Linked DNA regions of Homo sapiens. The protein of the gene in region 1 interacts with the protein of each later gene in a pairwise test. Each region holds a gene or a part of one and is shown on either strand. Other genes may lie near its edges.

Region 1 (5,524 bases):
AAATCACACATCGACAAAGCAAACTTCAACAATGAAAAAGTCATCTTGAAGTTGGATTACTCAGACTTCCAAATTGTAAAATAATGGCCTGAATTTAAGTTTTCTAAGATAAACTCAGTGGTTTGGTTTTTATTATTAATAGAGATAGAACTATTGTGTGTTAATATTAGCATTAGTCAATAAGTTATTTTAATGTCAGATTTTTGAATGTTATTATATATTACCTGTATGATGGAAGGATTACCACTGTACACAAATCTAATCAATAAAAACGTTAGAACCTTCTGCTTAGAGTACTTTTAAAAAATCTTCAGTGAACTTCCTTTTGGGCGAAATGAGAGGTCTTTATTCAGTAAACATTTGTAGGAAGAGGATTTTGAGGTAATTTAAAGAGGTCTGAAAGAAAAAAAGTCTGAGTCATTTCTTTAAATGGTTTCTATGAAATGTTCTTCAAGAAATTCCATGCCTAATAAGAACAAATACCACAAGTTCAATTTGTTAGCTCTGTTCACCTTATGTTTGGATGAATTACTTCTGCTGTTGTTTCTTTTCTCTGGGTAAGGAATTCACATAAAGTTATGTTATGGGCTGAACTGTGTCCCACCAAATTCATATGTTAAAGTCTCAGTCCCCAGTACCTCAGAAAGTGACTGTATTTGGACATAGGGCCTTTAAAGAGGTGATTAAGATTAAATGAGGCTGTGAGGGTGGGCCCTAATCCAATCTGACTGGTGTTCTTATAAGAGAACATATTGGCTATAGACACGTGTGCAAAAATCAAAGACCCTGTGAAAATGGCCATCTACAAGCCAAGGAGAGAGGCCTCAGGAGAAATCGTTGCTGCCAACACCTTGATCTCAGACTTCCAGTCTCTAGAACTGAGAGGAAATAGACTTCTGCTGCTTAAGCTACTCAGTCTGAGGTATTTTGTTATGGCAGCCCTAGGTATAGTAATAATCATAAACAGTTATCAGGATTTTGCTTAATCAGCCCTAGAAGACTGGTTGGTTGGGTTTGGTTAGTCACTAAACTAGCATATATCAAATGCTTACCAGGTCTGACAAATTCGTTATAAATTCCACTTTAAATTCTCAATGAAAATGAGATAGAAAGCAAAAACTAAGGACTGGTTAACAATTCCAAAACACTTTATTCTCACAGCATTCTCAGAGTTCTGCTCTCCTTTAGTTATTTTTATAACTAAAAGCTGTGGTGGCACTGGGGAGATTCAAGTCAGTGAAGAGAGTCTTGGTGTTGTCATCTGTAAATTAAGAGTTGAGCAAAGGCCGGGTGCGGTGGCTCACGCCTGTAATCCCAACACTTTGGGAGGCCGAGGCGGGCAGATCACCTGAGGTCCGGAGTTCGAGACCAGCCTGACCAACATGGAGAAACCCCCGTCTCTACTAAAAATACAAAATTAGCCGAGTGTGGTGGCGCATGCCTGTAATCCTAGCTACTCGGGAGGCTGAGGCAGGAGAATCACTTGAACCCTGGAGGCGGAGGTTGCAGTAAGCTGAGATCGCACCACTGAATTCCAGCCTGGGCAACAAGAGCTAAACTCCGTCTCAAAAAAAAAAAAAAAAAAAAAAAGAGTTGAGTTAGACAGTTTCTCAGCCTTTTCCAGCTCCAAATGCCATAATTCTAAGATGGCAGGCTCTGGAATTATTCATTCATTCGGTGCCTACCATAGGCCAGGCACTGTTCTTGGTAACTGGGATACAGCAGTAAACAAAATATATAAACTCCTTACCTTCACATAGCTTACATTCTAGGGAGAGAAGACAATAAGTAAACACATAAAATATATATTGAATTAAACGGTAGTTAAGAGCAAAGGTGAAAATGAGAAAAAAAAGGAAAGGGAAAACACGGGAAAAAAAAATAAAAACAAAAGTAAAAGCTACGACATAGTCTTTAACACCATGCCAAAAGGGAATAAGGATTGAGACTGTAGGTACCGGTTCACTGAACCCTGGGATGCGGATCCTTGGCTGGAACAACTGGTGCGCATGCGCACTGGTGTCTCGCGGCCTGGCGCGCCCCCTCCGAAGCGCATGCTCGTGGGCACGCACGAGCCTCAAGATCCAAGGTGCGCGCGTCGGCGTCCGAGGCGGTTGGTGTCGGAGAATTTGTTAAGCGGGACTCCAGGTGACTCTGGGGGAAGCACGCGACGAAAAGATGATGCCGGGGTCTCTTCTAACACCAGAAGGGCCCTGATGATGGCTGCGCGCAGCTTTCGGAGCCGGATGCGCGAGGGCCCCGGAGGCCCGGCGGCCTGGCGGCCGGGCGGGCCCAGTTTGGGGACAAGGACGGGGCTGGCCAGGGAGGGGCTGGGCCTGGCGGGAAGGCAGCGCTGCCCCGGACTCGGCCCGCGCGGCCCTCCCAGGCCCCCGTGCCCTGGATCCAGGCCCGTGCGTCCCGTCAGTCCCAGGCGCTGGGAGGCGTCATCAGGAAATCATTGGGTTTACATTAATCGGAATACTTGTTAAACGTTTACCCGTCAGTTGCTGCCGGCTGCTTAGTGCATTAGCTTAGAAAGCAGCAGAAATTCTGCAGTTAAGAGCCCTGATTTGTCCCGAGTTTGGAAAACCGGCCCCACCGCCTGCAGGGGCCCACCCACGTGGCTCTCACTGATGGAGAAGAAGGGGAGACCTTTAATGGCACTGGAATCTTAGGGTTTGGTTTTTTTTGTTTTGTTTTTTGTTTTTGTGTTTTCACTTGCAGGAAAACTTAAAATCAAGTTCAGGCAGCCCCATGCCATCATTATTATTACCAAGGTAGTTTATGCCCATCTGTAAAGACCAAAAGAATATTAATAATGACCTTCTGGCCGGGCGCGGTGGTTCACACCTGTAATCCCAGCACTTTGGGAGGCCAAGGCGGGAGGATCACTTGAGTTCAGGAGTTCGAGACCAGGCTGGTTAACATGGTGAAACCCCATCTCTACATAAGAGACAAAAATTAGCCAGGCATGGTGGCGAGCGCCTGTAATCCCAGCTACTCGGGAGGCTAAGGCTGGAGGATTGCTTGAGCCCGGGAGGTGCAGGCTGCAGTGAGCCGAGATTGTGTCATTGCACTCCAGCCTGGGTGACAGAGTGAGACTGTTTCAAAAAAGAATAATAACGACTTTCTAAAAACATCAGAGTAATACATGAACAGGATTTAACAATCAAATGGCAAAGAAAGGTTTATATGAAAAGGAATTTTCCTGCTTTATCTTTTCCCATTCCCAGCCTCTTTCCCTGAGGTGACTATACTTAACCATAATAATAATAACCTCTTAATGCCCCCAATCTCTCTTTGATACAATTTGATTCTTAAAATTTCTTCCTATTGCTTCACCTTATTACAATGTCTTAGCAATTCATTATAAGTATTTTTCTAAAAGTCATGGTTATTGTGTAATGTATAAATGTTATGAAACTAGCTTGGACATTTTTGTCATGAATAATTTCTAGCTAATGTTCCTTAGCTGTATTTAATTTAGGCATCTGTTTTTGGTGAAGTGGTTAGAATTTCGAATACTGTGTTTACTGGTCAACTTCAAGTGTAATTATGATTTCACTTTAGGACATGTGGGATTTAGAAAGGAGCATTGAAAATTATGAAATTATGAATTTTTTTTGGATGTTAATCCATTGCACCAAGCATGAGCTGTGCCTAGAGATCAGCGGTATAACTTTGTTTTGCTTTGTTTCACAATTTGGTTTAATAAGAGTGATTTCATTTACCTCAAGTGCTATTTCTTCATAATGCTGTGTAATGCTAAAGCTTTGATTATGTGCGTGTGTGGTTTTTTTCTCCAATAGGCAATTATTTCCAGTCAGAGAAGGAAACCAGTGCCTGGCATTCTCACCATCTTTCTACCTACCATGATCAAGTGCTTGTCAGTTGAAGTACAAGCCAAATTGCGTTCTGGTTTGGCCATAAGCTCCTTGGGCCAATGTGTTGAGGAACTTGCCCTCAACAGTATTGATGCTGAAGCAAAATGTGTGGCTGTCAGGGTGAATATGGAAACCTTCCAAGTTCAAGTGATAGACAATGGATTTGGGATGGGGAGTGATGATGTAGAGAAAGTGGGAAATCGTTATTTCACCAGTAAATGCCACTCGGTACAGGACTTGGAGAATCCAAGGTTTTATGGTTTCCGAGGAGAGGCCTTGGCAAATATTGCTGACATGGCCAGTGCTGTGGAAATTTCGTCCAAGAAAAACAGGACAATGAAAACTTTTGTGAAACTGTTTCAGAGTGGAAAAGCCCTGAAAGCTTGTGAAGCTGATGTGACTAGAGCAAGCGCTGGGACTACTGTAACAGTGTATAACCTATTTTACCAGCTTCCTGTAAGGAGGAAATGCATGGACCCTAGACTGGAGTTTGAGAAGGTTAGGCAGAGAATAGAAGCTCTCTCACTCATGCACCCTTCCATTTCTTTCTCTTTGAGAAATGATGTTTCTGGTTCCATGGTTCTTCAGCTCCCTAAAACCAAAGACGTATGTTCCCGATTTTGTCAAATTTATGGATTGGGAAAGTCCCAAAAGCTAAGAGAAATAAGTTTTAAATATAAAGAGTTTGAGCTTAGTGGCTATATCAGCTCTGAAGCACATTACAACAAGAATATGCAGTTTTTGTTTGTGAACAAAAGACTAGTTTTAAGGACAAAGCTACATAAACTCATTGACTTTTTATTAAGGAAAGAAAGTATTATATGCAAGCCAAAGAATGGTCCCACCAGTAGGCAAATGAATTCAAGTCTTCGGCACCGGTCTACCCCAGAACTCTATGGCATATATGTAATTAATGTGCAGTGCCAATTCTGTGAGTATGATGTGTGCATGGAGCCAGCCAAAACTCTGATTGAATTTCAGAACTGGGACACTCTCTTGTTTTGCATTCAGGAAGGAGTGAAAATGTTTTTAAAGCAAGAAAAATTATTTGTGGAATTATCAGGTGAGGATATTAAGGAATTTAGTGAAGATAATGGTTTTAGTTTATTTGATGCTACTCTTCAGAAGCGTGTGACTTCCGATGAGAGGAGCAATTTCCAGGAAGCATGTAATAATATTTTAGATTCCTATGAGATGTTTAATTTGCAGTCAAAAGCTGTGAAAAGAAAAACTACTGCAGAAAACGTAAACACACAGAGTTCTAGGGATTCAGAAGCTACCAGAAAAAATACAAATGATGCATTTTTGTACATTTATGAATCAGGTGGTCCAGGCCATAGCAAAATGACAGAGCCATCTTTACAAAACAAAGACAGCTCTTGCTCAGAATCAAAGATGTTAGAACAAGAGACAATTGTAGCATCAGAAGCTGGAGAAAATGAGAAACATAAAAAATCTTTCCTGGAACATAGCTCTTTAGAAAATCCGTGTGGAACCAGTTTAGAAATGTTTTTAAGCCCTTTTCAGACACCATGTCACTTTGAGGAGAGTGGGCAGGATCTAGAAATATGGAAAGAAAGTACTACTGTTAATGGCATGGCTGCCAACATCTTGAAAAATAATAGAATTCAGAATCAACC
Region 2 (4,837 bases), on another chromosome or scaffold:
TTAATTGGAAAAACATTTTATAGAACATAGAGGTGTGATTCCAAGTTGCTTCTTAATTTTCTGGAACCTGCCAGGGTCATTTACCAGCTCAGGGTATTGACATTTGCTGTTTCCTTCCTCTCTAGAGTGCTCTTCCCTGCACCTTCACATGGCGCATACCCCACTTCAGATCTCGGCTCACATATTGTCTCCTTAGAGCTGCAGTCTGAAGTAGTCCTCTCCAGATCTCATCACATTCTATCCCTTTCTGCTTTTCAAAGGATTTATTACTATCTGAAAGTATAATCTTCATTTATAAGCTTCATGAGGACAGTAACTTTGGTCTTAATTGATGTATTCTCAGTGCTGGAACAGAGCTTAGCATGTAGTAGACCCTCAGTAGATATTTGGAGAATATAGAATGAAGGAATGAATGCATGTTCATGACAAAACCAGAAGTGCATGTATAAACATGGAAGGTTGTGTATACCAAAATGTTAGTAAGGATTATCTAGGCATGTAGGATTATCGATGGTTTTTATTTTCCTAAAATATTCTCTGATTACATTATACACATGCATATGTCTATGTATTTTATATGATTTTCAAAATTTAAATCGAAAGGAAGTGAACTAGTTTCCCCCAAAACCCCCTCTGGTTATGACACTGTGCTGCCTTGTTTCATCTTTCCCAACATATGACCCAGGTCTGAATTGATCAGTGATATTTTTCACATCCATGTTTTCCAACAGATAATGACTTCATTTACCTCATTCAGTTCATCACCAAGGCCTGCCATTTCCACCTCTTCAAATATTCCTTAATTCCGTTCCCTTCTCTCTTCCACACTCACCACTTTAGACCAAACCACCACCCTCTCTTACCCAGTCCATTCAGTAGCTTTCAAATTACTCTTCAGCTTGCCATCCCTGCCTGCCACTTAATCCATTCTCCACACAGCCATAATGATCCTAAAAGGTGAATCAAATCACATCACTCCCTCCTCAAACTCTTTCAGTGGCTGCCACTTCTGGTGCATATGGAGGAAATCCAGTGCCTTAAAAATGCCCTTAGGTTCCTGCGTGAGTTGGCCCCTTCTTACCTTTTCCTCTCGTCTGATACTGTTCTTTGCTCATTATACTCCAGCAACATGGTCTTTCAGTTTTTTGGAACCCACCGAGTTCTTTTCTCTCCTTGGGCCTTCTTACAAGCAAACTATCTTCAAGGAACTCTCCTACACCCACTCTGCTGCTCCAGTCTGATTTTTACTCAAGCTTAGTTTTCAATTTTCATGACACTTCCTCAAAGAGACCTTTCCTGTCAATCTAAATTCATTTTTCCCAGTGCACTCTCTCATGGCATCTTGTAATTGTTTTTCATAACATTTGTCCATTTGTAACTTTTATTTTAATATCTGTGACCTCCCATAGTCTGTAAGCTCCTAAAGGGGAAAAGCTATATTTTTTTCAAGCACTGTATCCCTAATTCCTAGCACAATTCCTGGTGTAAATAAATAAATAATATTTAATACTTTCATCACCATTCCTATTCAGAAAACTTCCACACCCTGAAAGATGGATACTCTCACAGTAAACCTGAATGTACAAGGTTTGAAAACAGCCTCTTGGTTTAGAGGCAGATCATTTTTCTTGGCCCAACCCAAGTGCTAAATTAGCAATGAGGGATCTTACCCACAAGGTGGCAGCACTTGCCTAGATCTTGGATATAAATTCCTAGGTGTCAAGGATACATGCCCAGTTTAATGAGAGTTTTGTGTTTGGAGATTTGGCAAAATATCAGTGCCTAAGTAGGGAAAGAGAAGAACCTGACAGTTGTAGAATTATGGGAAAAAAGCCTCTACTCTATTGCTGTGTATTCTTTATTGCCTCAAAAAATTTGAGGGGATACATTGAAGGCTTTGGAAAGGAAAAGTTATAAGATTGGGAGCTAGTAAGATCTGGTTTTGAATCCCAGATTTACCAGCTATCAGCTATACCACTGGGCAAGTTACTTGATTTCTCTGAGCTTTTGTTTCCTTTTCTGTAAAACGGGGATTATGATATCTGCCTTTCAGGATTATAATGTAATGCTTCTGTCTCATAGCAAGTGCTGAATAAATGCTAATGATTGTTCTTCTCAGTTTCTTACAAGGCCTTCCTCACTAAGGAGCTTTGAAGGATTTCTGTTAGAGAATCCTGGGGGTTCAAAGTCTAGTGCACGAGTTTAGAGCATGCTCTGCCCTAGCTATATAGGGAGCAGATGTGCTTGTCTTCTCTTTGGGTTCTGAGATTAAAATAAATTAGAAAAGAATCTACTAGCCTACCCCAAGAGAGGTACTTAGACATACATACTTCATCCTACCTGCTGTAGTCAGAAACTCTTTTGGAGTGGGTTTTCTGACTCTTACACTGATTGGGCTCTATTTTTCTATGTAGTCCACTATAAGTTGGTAGTGGGGACAGTAGCCTGTGTAGCAGAGATGTCACAGGCTTCCTGCTTCCCTCTCCCATGCCCAGAACTGGCTTCACTAGACTGCAGCACTGTTTCTCAAGGAGTCTGGATGTGACCCGGAATCTTTGTCATGGAACTCTGGAAAACATTTTACAGTACTATACGTAGAGGTGTGATTCCAAGCTTCTTAATTTTCTAGAACCTGCCAGGGTCATTTACCAGCTCAGGGTATTGACATTTGCTGTTTCCTTCCTCTCTAGAGTGCTCTTCCCTGCACCTTCACATGGCGCATACCCCACTTCAGATCTCGGCTCACATATTGTCTCCTTAGAGCTGCAGTCTGAAGTAGTCCTCTCCAGATCTTGTCACGTTCTATCCCTTTCTGCTTTTCAAAGAATTTATTACTATCTGAAAGTATAATCTTCATTTATAAGCTTCATGAGGACAGGAATTTTGGTCTTAATTGATGTATTCTCAGTGCTGGAACAGAGCTTAGCATGTAGTAGACCCTCAGTAGATATTTGGAGAATATAGAATGCATGTTCATGACAAAACCAGAAGTGCATGTATAAACATGGAAGGTTGTGTATACCAAAATGTTAGTAAGGATTATCTAGGCATGTAGGGTTATCGATGGTTTTTATTTTCCTAAAATATTCTCTGATCATATTACACACATGCATATGTTTGTGTCTTTTATGTTCTTTCAAAGTTTAAAATTATATACCACTTCCAATGAGTTGGCATTGGCTTGTGCCATGAATCTTGTTTTATATCCATACCCTAAAGAGTTGATCAGGTAGGGCTGGGTGCGATGGTTCATGCCTGTAATCCCAGCACTTTGGAAGGCCGAGGCAGGCAGGTCACAAGGTCAGGAGATTGAGACCATCCTGGCTAACACGGTGAAACCCCGTCTCTACTAAAAATATGAAAAATTAGCCGGGCGTGGTGGCGGGCACCTGTAGTCCCAGCTACTTGGGAGGCCGAGGCAGGAGAATGGTGTGAACCTGGGAGGCGGAGCTTGCAGTGAGCCGAGATTGCACCACTGCACTGCAGTCTGGGCGACACAGCGAGACTCTGTCTCAAAAAAAAAAAAAAAAAAAGAATTGATCAAGTGAGGCATCAACTGATGTGTCTTCTCTGGACCCTAAAAAAGGACAGCCATTAAAAATTTTCAAATTATGAAGTACTGGTATATATCAGTGTTATATGACTAGAACAATATAGGACCTTGAATTAAATCATCTCTTTTTCCAGACAGTGCCATGATGCCACATGTGCTGCCCTTGCTAGCACTTTTCTTTAGAGAGCTCAGTTCCCTTTAAAGATGATCCATCTTTAAACTCATCCACAGGATTTTGTAGTACGAAAACAACCAACTCTGCAGGGCCCCCAGAACACTGCCTCTTAAGGCTGGGGCTTTACCCCAGGCTCTAATGTCCCCTAACCAGGGGAGCATTTCAAAGAGAATATGGGACTTGAGATGCCAAAGAGCCCCAGATATGGATGCATATTCATTTATTCAACAAATCGTATTGAGTGCCTACTATGTGGCAGGCACTGTTCTAGGGGATATGCTGGTGAGCAAAACAGACACACACCCATGTGGAACTTGTATTCCAGTGGATGGTTTGCAGTGGTAGGCTGTCCTCCAAACACCATGCAGAGATACATGCTCATGTATACCCTCAGCCCTCAGATGTACTCTGTGCTTTAGGATTTTGGTAGTATCTCCTCAGCAGTTCTTTTCATTTCTGGTGCTCTTTAGTTCCCTTTTTATTCATATAAAGAAATTAAGATTCAGAGAAGTCAATTAACTTTCTCACAGCTACATGCAAGTGAGTGGCAGAGCTTAATCTTGAGCCTAGATCTGCTGACCTCTGTGGAGGACTCTGTTAAGCTACCTGGATTTAGATTAAGCTCAGAATTCACTTCTTTGGCTGTTGGACTATTGTAGCTCCATAGCAAATGGGGCTTTCCAGGAGTTTTATTCACATTCTTTTGTTCAGCATGCATGAAACAGAATACCTCATCTGAACTGAAGGCTATGCCATTTTAGAAAAATACAAGTATCCAGCTGGGCACGGTGGCTTGTGCCTGTAATCCCAGCACTTTGGGAGGCCAAGGCGGGTAGATCACTTGAGGCCAGGAGTTGGAGACCAGCCTGGCCAACATGGCGAAACCCCGTCTCTACTAAAAATACGAACATTAGCTGGGCTTGGTGGCGCATGCCTGTAATCCCAGCTACTCAGGAGGCTGAGGTAGGAGAATCGCTTGAACCCAGGAGGTGGAGGCTGCAGTGAGCCGAGATTGTGCTATTGCACTCCAGCCTGGGCAACAGAGCAAGACTCTGTCTTAAAAAACAAACAGGTATCCATCTCACACCTGTCAGAATGGCTGTTATTAA
Region 3 (4,837 bases), on another chromosome or scaffold:
AAATGGCCAGTTGAGATGACTAGATCAAACTCAGTTTAGACTCATTGGACATTCGATGAATTTTCCTGCAGCAAGTGGTGATCTGGAAAAAGACCAGATCAGCAACAGAAAAAATAAAGACTTTATATCCTCTCTGCATGTCTGCTTTGTAGTGTGAGTTACATTGGTGATTATGCACATTGTTGAGGTTCTACATAAAAATAGCAAGTAATTGAGAAAGTTCAATATCTCTTGCCAGAGTCTTTAAGTCCCAGCAGATAAAGGAATGCTTTGGTAGACTTTAGCGCATGGAGCCATGAATCCTTCTACCATCCATGAAAGACAGAGAGAGATCCAATTCCTGCAGTAGAAAAGCCAATGAGACAGAGGAGGAAATTGGCAGATGATGGGTAAGTGAGGAAACCCCATCTAACTTTCTTTGGTGGGACTGGAGTCAGAGCTATGCCAATGTTATGTTTGCTTCAGTATTAGTGAGCAATACTCAAGTCTACCTTTGTTTCATGTTTGTGTTTGTTTTTAAAAGCAGTCCAGGAGTGGTAAGAGCCTCTTCTGCCATATGCTGGATCTGTGGCATGCTGGAGCTGGCTTGCACTCACTCATAAGAGCCCACTGCGATCATTCTCAGCAAACTAACACAGACACAGAAAACCAAACACCACATGTTCTCACTCATAAGTGGGAGTTGAACAATGAGAACACATGGACACAGGGAGGGGAACATCACACACCGGGGCCTGTCGGGGGGTGGGGGGCAAGGGGAGAGAGAGCATTAGGACAAATACCTAGTGCAAGCAGGGCTTAAAACCTAGATGACGGGTTGATAGGTGCAGCAAACCACCATGGCACATGTATACCTATGTAACAAACCTGCACGTTTTGCACATGCATCCTGGAACTTAAAGTAAAATAAAAATGAAAACTAAAAAAAGAGCCCTCTGTGCACCATGCACTCCTCAATTCATGCACACAGCGTCATGTCCGTGGCTTAAACTCAGCCATGCTGGAAGTATTTATACCGTGGAAGTCAAATGCTACACATCAAAGTGGTTTGTGCTTGTTTTGTTTTTTTGCCTGGAGGGCTGATAGCTAAACATTGACTGGAATAGAGGGTCAAGAGAAGACAGCAGCCCCCACGTGGAAGCGCCATATATCTTGGTCTTCCCTGCCCAACAGCTCCTGGGAGCCACCTTACTTTCTGAGGGGAGGAGGGAGGCAGCCAAGAATGAGACTTGCCAACTTCGGGGTTATCTAGTGGCTGAGCTCCCAGGCTCCGGCTTCTCTCCACCTCGCCACATAGTCCTTGTACCTGGCTATATTAACGCATCAATGAGTGCTCCAGCAGCAAGGAAGAGCTAGCCCAGCCCTGCCAGGGCCACCTGCGTGTCCTCCCTCCCTGGCTTCAAGAAAAGGAGAAGTTATCAATTACCAAGATTTCATGGGCAAGGCAGCCACAGGTTTCACCTCCAATTGTGACATAATTCAATGACTCTTTGACAAACTCATCAGCAGTCTTGGTTATCACATTTGTATTTAGATACTTTGTCATTGCAGTCGAGACAGCATATGGGGTCAGCACCTACAACGGGAAACAAAGACCATGGCACAGAAGCAATCCACCCCAGGAAGAAGACTCAGAAATTAACACTCAAGCCCCCATCCCACCATTTCCCGACCCTTCTCTTCCTAGGCAAAGTTTTAAGATCTTGAGTGGAAAAAGGCACAGTACCGGCACAGAGCTGGGAATCAGAAATTTGGTTTCTCAAGATGAGAACCTACCTAGCCAACATCAAGTGGCCCAAATGCCCTGCCCAACACACAGTGTGAATGGGAAGAACTCGGGTCTCTCTCTCAGAACCAAGTTGCAAGACAGCAAATAAAAATACAGGATGTCCAGTTAAATTTGAAGTTCAGACAAACAATGAAAACCACTTCAGCACAATCGTATCCCAAGTATTGCATGGGACATACTTATACTGAAAACTATTCATAGGCATCTGAAATTCAAATTTAACTGGAGGTCCTGTATTTAATCTGGCAACTCTATCTCAGAAGTTTGTTTCTAATACATATAACCAAAGTTGGAGCAACTGAAAGCACTCTGGATTCCCACTTTCACACTTCAGTTAGGAACCAAGAGTAGCACATACCTCATAACCTCTTCCTGTTGTGGTAAGAAAAACAATCACACATTGTGCCCTAAAAACCCAACACCATGTTTCCACCTGTGGGCTAACCACATTGTGGCCTGGCATGGGGATTCATAATGGGGTTTTATTACCTTATTCCCAGAACAAAGGGTTTGGCATCTTTAGAAAGAAAAAAGGCTGGCATGGTGACTCATGCCTGTAATCCCAGCATGTTGGGAGGCCAAGGCAGGACGATTGCTTGAGCCCAGGAGTGCGAGACCAGCCTGAGCAACATGGCAAAACCTCATCTCCATTAAAAATAGAAAAATTAGTCAGGCACGGTGGCACATGCCTGTAGTCCTAGCTACTTAGGAGGCTGAGGCAGGAGGATCCACTGAACCTGGAAGGCAGAGGTTACAGTGAGCCAAGATCGTGCCACTACACTCCAGCCTAGGCTACATCAGAGTGAAACCCTGTCAAAAAAAAAAAAAGAAAAGAACAGAAAAAGAAAGAAAGAAAGAAAGAAAGAAAGAAAGAAAGAAAGAAAGAGAAAGAAAAGAAAGAAAAGAAAAAGTAAAAAAAAAAATCCACAAAAGTTTTCTAGGTTTTATTTTTCTTCACATCACATTTGGAATTACATTATTTCATAATTGAACCCAATTATGAATCAATTAATCCAAATGAGCAGGTTCCTATGGAAATTAAAGCATGATTAATTTGTATAACACTTTTCTTCCAAGGATCTCAAAGTGTTACTCTTTGAGAAATATAAGGAGTGTGCTTTCTCCACCACAGTTTCCAGATAGGGAAGTAATGATAAGTATTTTCATTCTTAAGTGATTTTGGGTTGACAAAACACCTGTATGTACAAAATAGGGGCTCAATAAATATTGTTTAAACATATGTACTTATTTCTTCGTTAGATCTTTACTATAACCCAGAGATATAAGCAGGCATTATAAGCCCCTTTTTATGGATGGGAAAACTGAGGCTCACAGAGTTTAAACAAGCTGACCAGGATCACTCAGATGATAAGTGGTAGAGCTGTGATGAAATTCAAACCCAACTCCACAGTACATACTTCTTCATGCATTCAGCGAGTATTTATTCATTCAGCGAGTATTTATTGAGTGTGTGTTCGGAGAGGCCAATTGGTTTTTGAAAGATCACAGTCTTTTCACTTTCTCCTCCTTGCTAGAAGAGCACCTCCAAGTTCTCTGCATCAGGGAAGGGACAAGGGACTCCATTTCCCCACCCACATCTCCTCCTGACCCTCCTGCTCCATAGTACCCACTACCTCGGCAGCTGTGCCCCAAGGATCAAGACAAGATGCTGCTGAGGGTCACATGGCTAGGAAGCAGGTGGCTGCGATGATCATTCATGTTTAGAAATCACCAAGGATTCTTGGTTCCTTCTTCTTCCAGACACATGCATAATAGAATTGCACTTCCTGGCCCCCTGTGGCTGTGTAGGACCATGCAAGCAGAGTTGGCCAGTGATTTATGAACAGAGGTGACATGTGTCATCTCTGGGCCAGAGCATTTCATTGTCAAAGCAGGACCCACTAGAACTTCCCACTCCTTTTCCTCTGGCATGTCGGCTGCTCCGTCAGCCTGGGGCCCTGTGTCAGCACAGTGAGCCAATGTCTTCTGTGAACCCACAGTGGATGTGTCACGTGAATGCAAAATAGGACTTTGTTGTTTTAAGCCACTGAGATTTTAGGGGTTATTTTTTTACTGCAGCAAACTTAGCCCAGACAGAGTTGCAGCATTACAAAAGCGAAACTCCAGCTTCAGCTGGGAGTGGGAGCACGGAGACCCCAGCATGGAAGCAGGACCCTCTGATGGGTCAGACGGCTTCTGCATGGCAGAGAAAGGGACTGTGACCCGGTGGCAAGGCTGTTACAACCACTCACTATGGCTCAGAGATGATATTATTGGCCAAATTCCTACCATTAACTCATATCTGCCTACTTAATAAGCTTTACCCTGTAGCTGGTTAGTTTATAGGAACAGCTGCCTAAAATACTCTCACTGGATATTTTAATTGAAAATCAGTGTGCGCAGCAATAATTTCCAAGATATAATTTTGAGTGTGCCTTTCTCCATTTCTAATAGTATATCGTAAAACTTCTTCCCACACAACAATAACAAAACAAAACAAAAACTCTGTTTATTCTACGTTCCAGAAACTATCTAACTCTAACTCTGTTGCTGAACCAAGCACAAATAAATCACTGACACTTTAGGAATCACATTGCTCAGCCTGCAGCAGGCAGTGACAGCCCAGCTCTGCCTAGGTGAGGACAGGTCATCTCCACGATGACCTGTGGAAGGGAAGCAGAGTGCCTCCTCCTCACCTGCTCGAGAACCAGAGTGTGGGGACCTCTGTGGCCCATCACAGAAGGTCCCCTCCCCTGGTGACTAGCCCCTCCCCTCATTCAAACTCGGATCAAGTGCCCAGTTTTGTTTTGTTTGCTTCTTCTCCAGAATTCCTCCCACATAAGCCTGTGTTCTGTACCAGGGTCAGAGAGGAAAAGCCACAACCAACCCGAATGTCTGCTCTGATGAAGCATCAGGTAGCAAGAAGGTCCACAGCATTTCTGAGCAGCCACTCCCCTCTCCTATTTCCTCCTCCAGCACCCAGGGCACGGGGGAGGGCAACAGAAGCCACAGCAGCAGGTGGGACTGAGGCGCCCCAAAAGCCCACGT
Region 4 (4,837 bases), on another chromosome or scaffold:
AATTCCCAAAGTAGATAACTTTCAGTGGTAGTGGGAATACCGCAGATTCCTGTTTTGAGTGGGATTTTCAGTGGTGTGCAGGAGCTGGCTGGTATCGGCTCTCAGGAGCTAACGGTGCACATCTCTTCCCAACTCTGCCTTCAGTGATATCACATTGGTAGCTTAAAATCAACGATGGGAGAGTATTCACACCATTGACAGAGGCAAGTGGACATATCAGAGACTTGTTTGTTTGCTTTGAGACCCAGTTTACCAGCACATCACTGGGAGTTTTCCATCTCCAAATTAGCCACTTTACAATGTCGTTTTTAAATGTCTGTAGCAGATTAACATGATTCCCTGCCCTCTTGCTCTTCACAGACCACCCTCACTAATGCAGGAGGAACTGGAAACTGGAACACAGGAAGCTGCCTATCATGAAGGCCCATGATAGACAAGAGAAGTCCGGCGTGAGTGATGGAGAATATTAAACAACAAATCTAAGCCATACGCCTAAAGCTGCCAAAGACCTTGAAAGGCCCAGCTGAGAAAAACATGAACTTCAAGTCTGGCATGTACGGCTATTTTAGGAATGATGAAAAACAACTTCATCAGATGTGGCTCCTGCCCTCTTAATAGGGTGAGGACAGGCAGCCTCTTCATCTTCTCATTGTTTTTTCCTAATTCTACTCCTTCATGTTCCCAGTTCCTCTCAAACTGGGAAAGATAGTAAGCCCATATAACTGCACTTCTAATCTCAGAAGTTTTTTTTTCTAATTACAATTGTTGTTTTATAAAAGCTGGGAATACTCTTTCATTTAACAATCTTTTTCAACAGTCATTTGTTGTTGAGGCCCTCCAATGTGCCAGGCATTGCACTAGACACTGGGACACAGAGACAAATAAGATTCATTTTCTGCTCTCAAAAAGCAGAGATAACGCCAGGTGTGGTGGCTCACACCTGTAATCCCAGCACTTTGGGAGGCCAAGGTGGGCGGGTCACTTGAGGTCAGGAGTTCAAGGCCAGCCTGGCCAACATGGTGAAACCTCATCTCCACTAAAAATACAAAAATTAGCCAGGTGTGGTGGCGGGAACCTGTAATCCCAGCTACTCAGGAGGCTGAGGCAGGAGAATCGCTTGAACCCAGGAGGCGGAGGTTGCAGTGAGCCAAGATCACACCACTGTACACCAGACTGGGCAACAAGAGCAAAACACTGTCTCAAAAAAAAAAAAAAAAAAAAAAAAAAAAGAAGCAGAGACAGACCAATAGGGACTCCAATGCGTGCATCAGGGATGGAAGTTTCAAGCAGTCTAGGTCAACAGGAGGGTCAGTGTGAAGGTCAGGAATTTGGTGGATAGGGATGTAGTACAAGAGGTGACCAACAGAAGCCAGGGTTTGAAGAGCCTTAAACATGGCAATAAAAAGTTAGAAATGGAGATGAGTTTGTGGGAGTCCACTGGGGAGAAGGCGGCGTGAGCCACAACACTCATCTGCACAGTGGCTCAGGGAGGATTCGAGAGATGGCAGCAGTGAGGTGGAAGCTATGAAAAGACCACAGCAGGGATCTAGAGGGACTCCCAGAAACCCAGCTCAGCTGAACAAGTGGAGTCAATTATGAAGCTGGGAAGAAGACCGGCTACATTAAAACCCTCAATGGTGGAAGTACAGACCCACCCTTTTCTCCGGTTCCACTATGATGGCGTGTTTATCTTCTTCTGACACGAGAACACACGTGGCAAAGGATGACTTTAACATGTTCATAACCAGGTCGTTGGAGAGGACGTCCAGCTTCTTAACTTGATCACCTGTCACGTTGGTAGAACCAGCAATGCCATAGCTACAGGGAACAAAAGCCACAAAAAATAAGCCATGACCACCAGAACATGTAGATGAGTCCATAAACCCACCAAAAGTGAGTGTTCGGTAAGATTTAGAAGAAAGAGTTCATGTCCTTTGCAGGGACATGGATGAAGCTGGAATCCATCATTCTCAGCAAACTAATACAGGAACAGAAAACCAAACACCACATGTTCTCACTCATAAATGGGAGTTGAACAATGAGAACACATAGACACAGGGAGGGGAACATCACACACTGGGGCCTCTCAGGGAGCTGGGGACTAGGGGAGGGAGAGCATTAGGAGAAATACCTAATGTAGATGACAGATTGATGGGTGCAGCAAACCACCATGGCATGTTTATACCTATGTAACAAACCTACGCATTCTGCATGTGTATCCCAGAACTTAAAGTATAATAATAATTTTTTTAAAAAAGGGCCGGGCGTGGTGGCTCACGCCTGTAATCCCAGCACTTTGGGAGGCTGAGGCGGGTGGATCATGAGGTCAGGGGATCGAGACCATCCTGGCTAACATGGTGAAACCCCGTCTCTATTAAAAAATACAAAAAAGTAGCCGGGTGTGGTGGTGGGTGCCTGTAGTCCCAGCTACTTGGGAGGCTGAGGCAGGAGAATGGCGTGAACCCAGGAGGCGGAGCTTGCAGTGAGCCGAGATCGTGCCACTGCATGCCAGCCTGGGCGACAGAGCGAGACTCCGTCTCAAAAAAAAAAAAAAAAAAAAAAAATACAAAAAATTAGCCGGGTGTGGTGGCGGGCGCCTGTAGTCCCAGCTATTCAGGATGCTGAGGCAGGAGAATGGCGTGAACCCGGGAGGTGGAGCTTGCAGTGAGCCGAGATCGCACCACTGCACTCCAGCCTGGGCGACAGAGCAAGATTCCGTCTAAAAATATATATATTTTTAGAAGAAAGGAAGGAGGACATCAGCTTGGGAGAACAAGGCAGGAAGGTCTGGACAGACCCTAGAGAGGAGGAGATACTATCATCTGCCTCTTCACCTCGAACCTGTCATGGTGCCCTGCACACTTTTGTGGTTAAATCAGTGTTTCTTAACTTTGTTTTCATTATGATTCCCCTAGGGAGCTTTTTAGAACATTTTTTCCTCAACCATACTCCCCCATGAAATATTTTTAATACTACAGATATAGTAGATATCTGTTTATTGCAGTATGTGTCTCAGTGCTTTTTACATAAAAAGTTTGCGGGTGTTTTTGGTTTTGCCCAGAAAGAACCAGTGTTGGCCCCCAAACACACGGGTTAAACGAATCAATAGAGAGACCCAGCAAGCAAGGAAGCCTGGGTCGGGGGTAGCCTGAGTTGCGAGCCAAGCCAAGGGGTTTATGGCTTTATAACTAAAAAGACCCTAAAAGAAACAAAGCATCAACCGGCCCCTCTGCCTCATTTCATAGAGGAGAAAACTCAGACCCAAGACTCCTGTGGACTTCTCCACACAGGCAGAGGGTAGAAGTGAGACGCTGCCTATGACTCCCAGGCAGAGGGTGGAGGCGAGACCCTGCCTATGACTCCCAGGCCAGGGCTCTCTTGGTGACACCCTGGGCCCCTGGCAGGAGTCCTAGGGCATGGAAGTTGCAGGGATCCTGGAGTTTTCACTATTTTTAAGCAACCTGCAAGTCAGTAATTATAGAATTCCCAGAATCCAGTGGCTTGTCTAAACGCAGCCTAGCTTCTTAGACTTACAGAAGCGGCAGGTTGTCATAGCCTGGGGTTGCCCTGAACACAGAAAGGAGGGAGACGTCTCACAGGAAGGATGCACAGAGCAAGGCGAGAGCCTTGATGTGGGAAGGGGAAAAGATGGGTCTTTGAAGACACCAGCAAGCCTCTGAAAGTGGGTGGTAAGGGCACACCCGCGCCCTTGGCCATGATGGCGATGTGCGCTCGCCTGGGAACTGACGGTCCCTGATCCAGTGGCCGTGACTGCTTCAGCTCCTGCAAGTGCATTTGCCCAAAACATAACTCGCTGTGACTGGCTGGGCAAAACTGAGCCCCTCCTAGAAACCATCCAAACCCACATGCCTGGTCCGGCCTGACTATCTCAGGAGCTAGCTCCGGCTGTCTTCTCGGGCCCGCCTGTCAGCGTCTTTCAGCCACTCTTGGCATCATTCCCTTTCCAGCCTGCAAAGCACATCTCATCCCACCAGCCCTCCTCCTGCTGCTTCTCTTTTCACCCATCACTCCTATTTCATGAGTAAAAGACCAAGATGTCTATCGAGCTTTGAGCTCCACCCCATGTCCCTGGGCTTTCGATCCTATTTCCACATGATCTTTTTCTGACCCCAATTGTGAGGCTGGGGCTTGTGCAGGAAGAAGGCAGCCAAAATCTGGGAGGCCAGAGGGACTTGGCAGGGCCCACCAGCTCAAATGCAGCTCCCTCAGTGACCCCACTAGCAGCAGTGCTCTCTCCTTTCCAGCCTGAGAGTTGCACTGTCAAAGTCACTTTATGATTATTTTTATTTTTATTTTTATTTTTATTTTTGGAGACAGTGTCACTCTGTTGTCCAGGCTGGTGTGCAGTTGCGTGATCTCGGCTCACTGCAACCTCCGCCTCCCAGGTTCAAGCGATTCTCGTGCCTCACCCTCCTGAGTAGCTGGGACTATAGCCGTATGCCACCACATCCAGCTAATTTTTGTATTTTTAGTACAGACAGGGTTTCACCATGTTGGCCAGGCTGGTCTCGAACTCCTGACCTCAAGTGATCCACCCACCTCAGCCTCCCAAAGTGCTGGGATTACAGGCATGAGCCACCGTGCCCAGCCCACTGTCAAACTCACTTCTGATTCCGGAGGGCAAATAGCACCGATGGACCAGAAGAAGGGCTTCAAGGCAGAGACCAGGTCCAGGCCTCAGCTCCCAGGCTCCCCTGCTCTTTCTGAGCCTCCCTCCCTTTCACATGTGTCCAAAGAGGGAAGTGAAGTCTGCCCCCACGCGGCTGTCAGAGGATTGCATGAGATGACATACACAAAAGGCCTAGCACTAATAGGT

The links. The genes of interacting proteins can lie anywhere in the genome.
Region 2: the proteins of MLH3 (region 1) and TSTD2 interact in a two-hybrid assay, tested with the Homo sapiens proteins (one large-scale study listed by BioGRID and IntAct).
Region 3: the proteins of MLH3 (region 1) and HSD17B3 interact in a two-hybrid assay, tested with the Homo sapiens proteins (one large-scale study listed by BioGRID and IntAct).
Region 4: the proteins of MLH3 (region 1) and FBP1 interact in a two-hybrid assay, tested with the Homo sapiens proteins (one large-scale study listed by BioGRID and IntAct).

The regions. Positions count from the first base shown.
Region 1 is NC_000014.9:75,048,004-75,053,527, reverse strand, and holds the start of MLH3 (DNA mismatch repair protein Mlh3), read left to right. Parts: upstream 1-2,060; 5' UTR 2,061-2,148; intron 2,149-3,809; 5' UTR 3,810-3,872; coding exon 3,873-5,524. Other genes in the region: ACYP1 (acylphosphatase-1 isoform c precursor), read left to right, coding at 1-84. UniProt on the Homo sapiens protein: Probably involved in the repair of mismatches in DNA.
Region 2 is NC_000009.12:97,612,524-97,617,360, reverse strand, and holds part of TSTD2 (thiosulfate sulfurtransferase/rhodanese-like domain-containing protein 2), read left to right. Parts: intron 1-4,837.
Region 3 is NC_000009.12:96,239,332-96,244,168, forward strand, and holds part of HSD17B3 (17-beta-hydroxysteroid dehydrogenase type 3), read right to left. Parts: intron 1,577-4,837; coding exon 1,427-1,576; intron 1-1,426. UniProt on the Homo sapiens protein: Catalyzes the conversion of 17-oxosteroids to 17beta-hydroxysteroids. Favors the reduction of androstenedione to testosterone. Testosterone is the key androgen driving male development and function. Uses NADPH while the two other EDH17B enzymes use NADH.
Region 4 is NC_000009.12:94,618,674-94,623,510, forward strand, and holds part of FBP1 (fructose-1,6-bisphosphatase 1), read right to left. Parts: intron 1,819-4,837; coding exon 1,656-1,818; intron 1-1,655. UniProt on the Homo sapiens protein: Catalyzes the hydrolysis of fructose 1,6-bisphosphate to fructose 6-phosphate in the presence of divalent cations, acting as a rate-limiting enzyme in gluconeogenesis. Plays a role in regulating glucose sensing and insulin secretion of pancreatic beta-cells.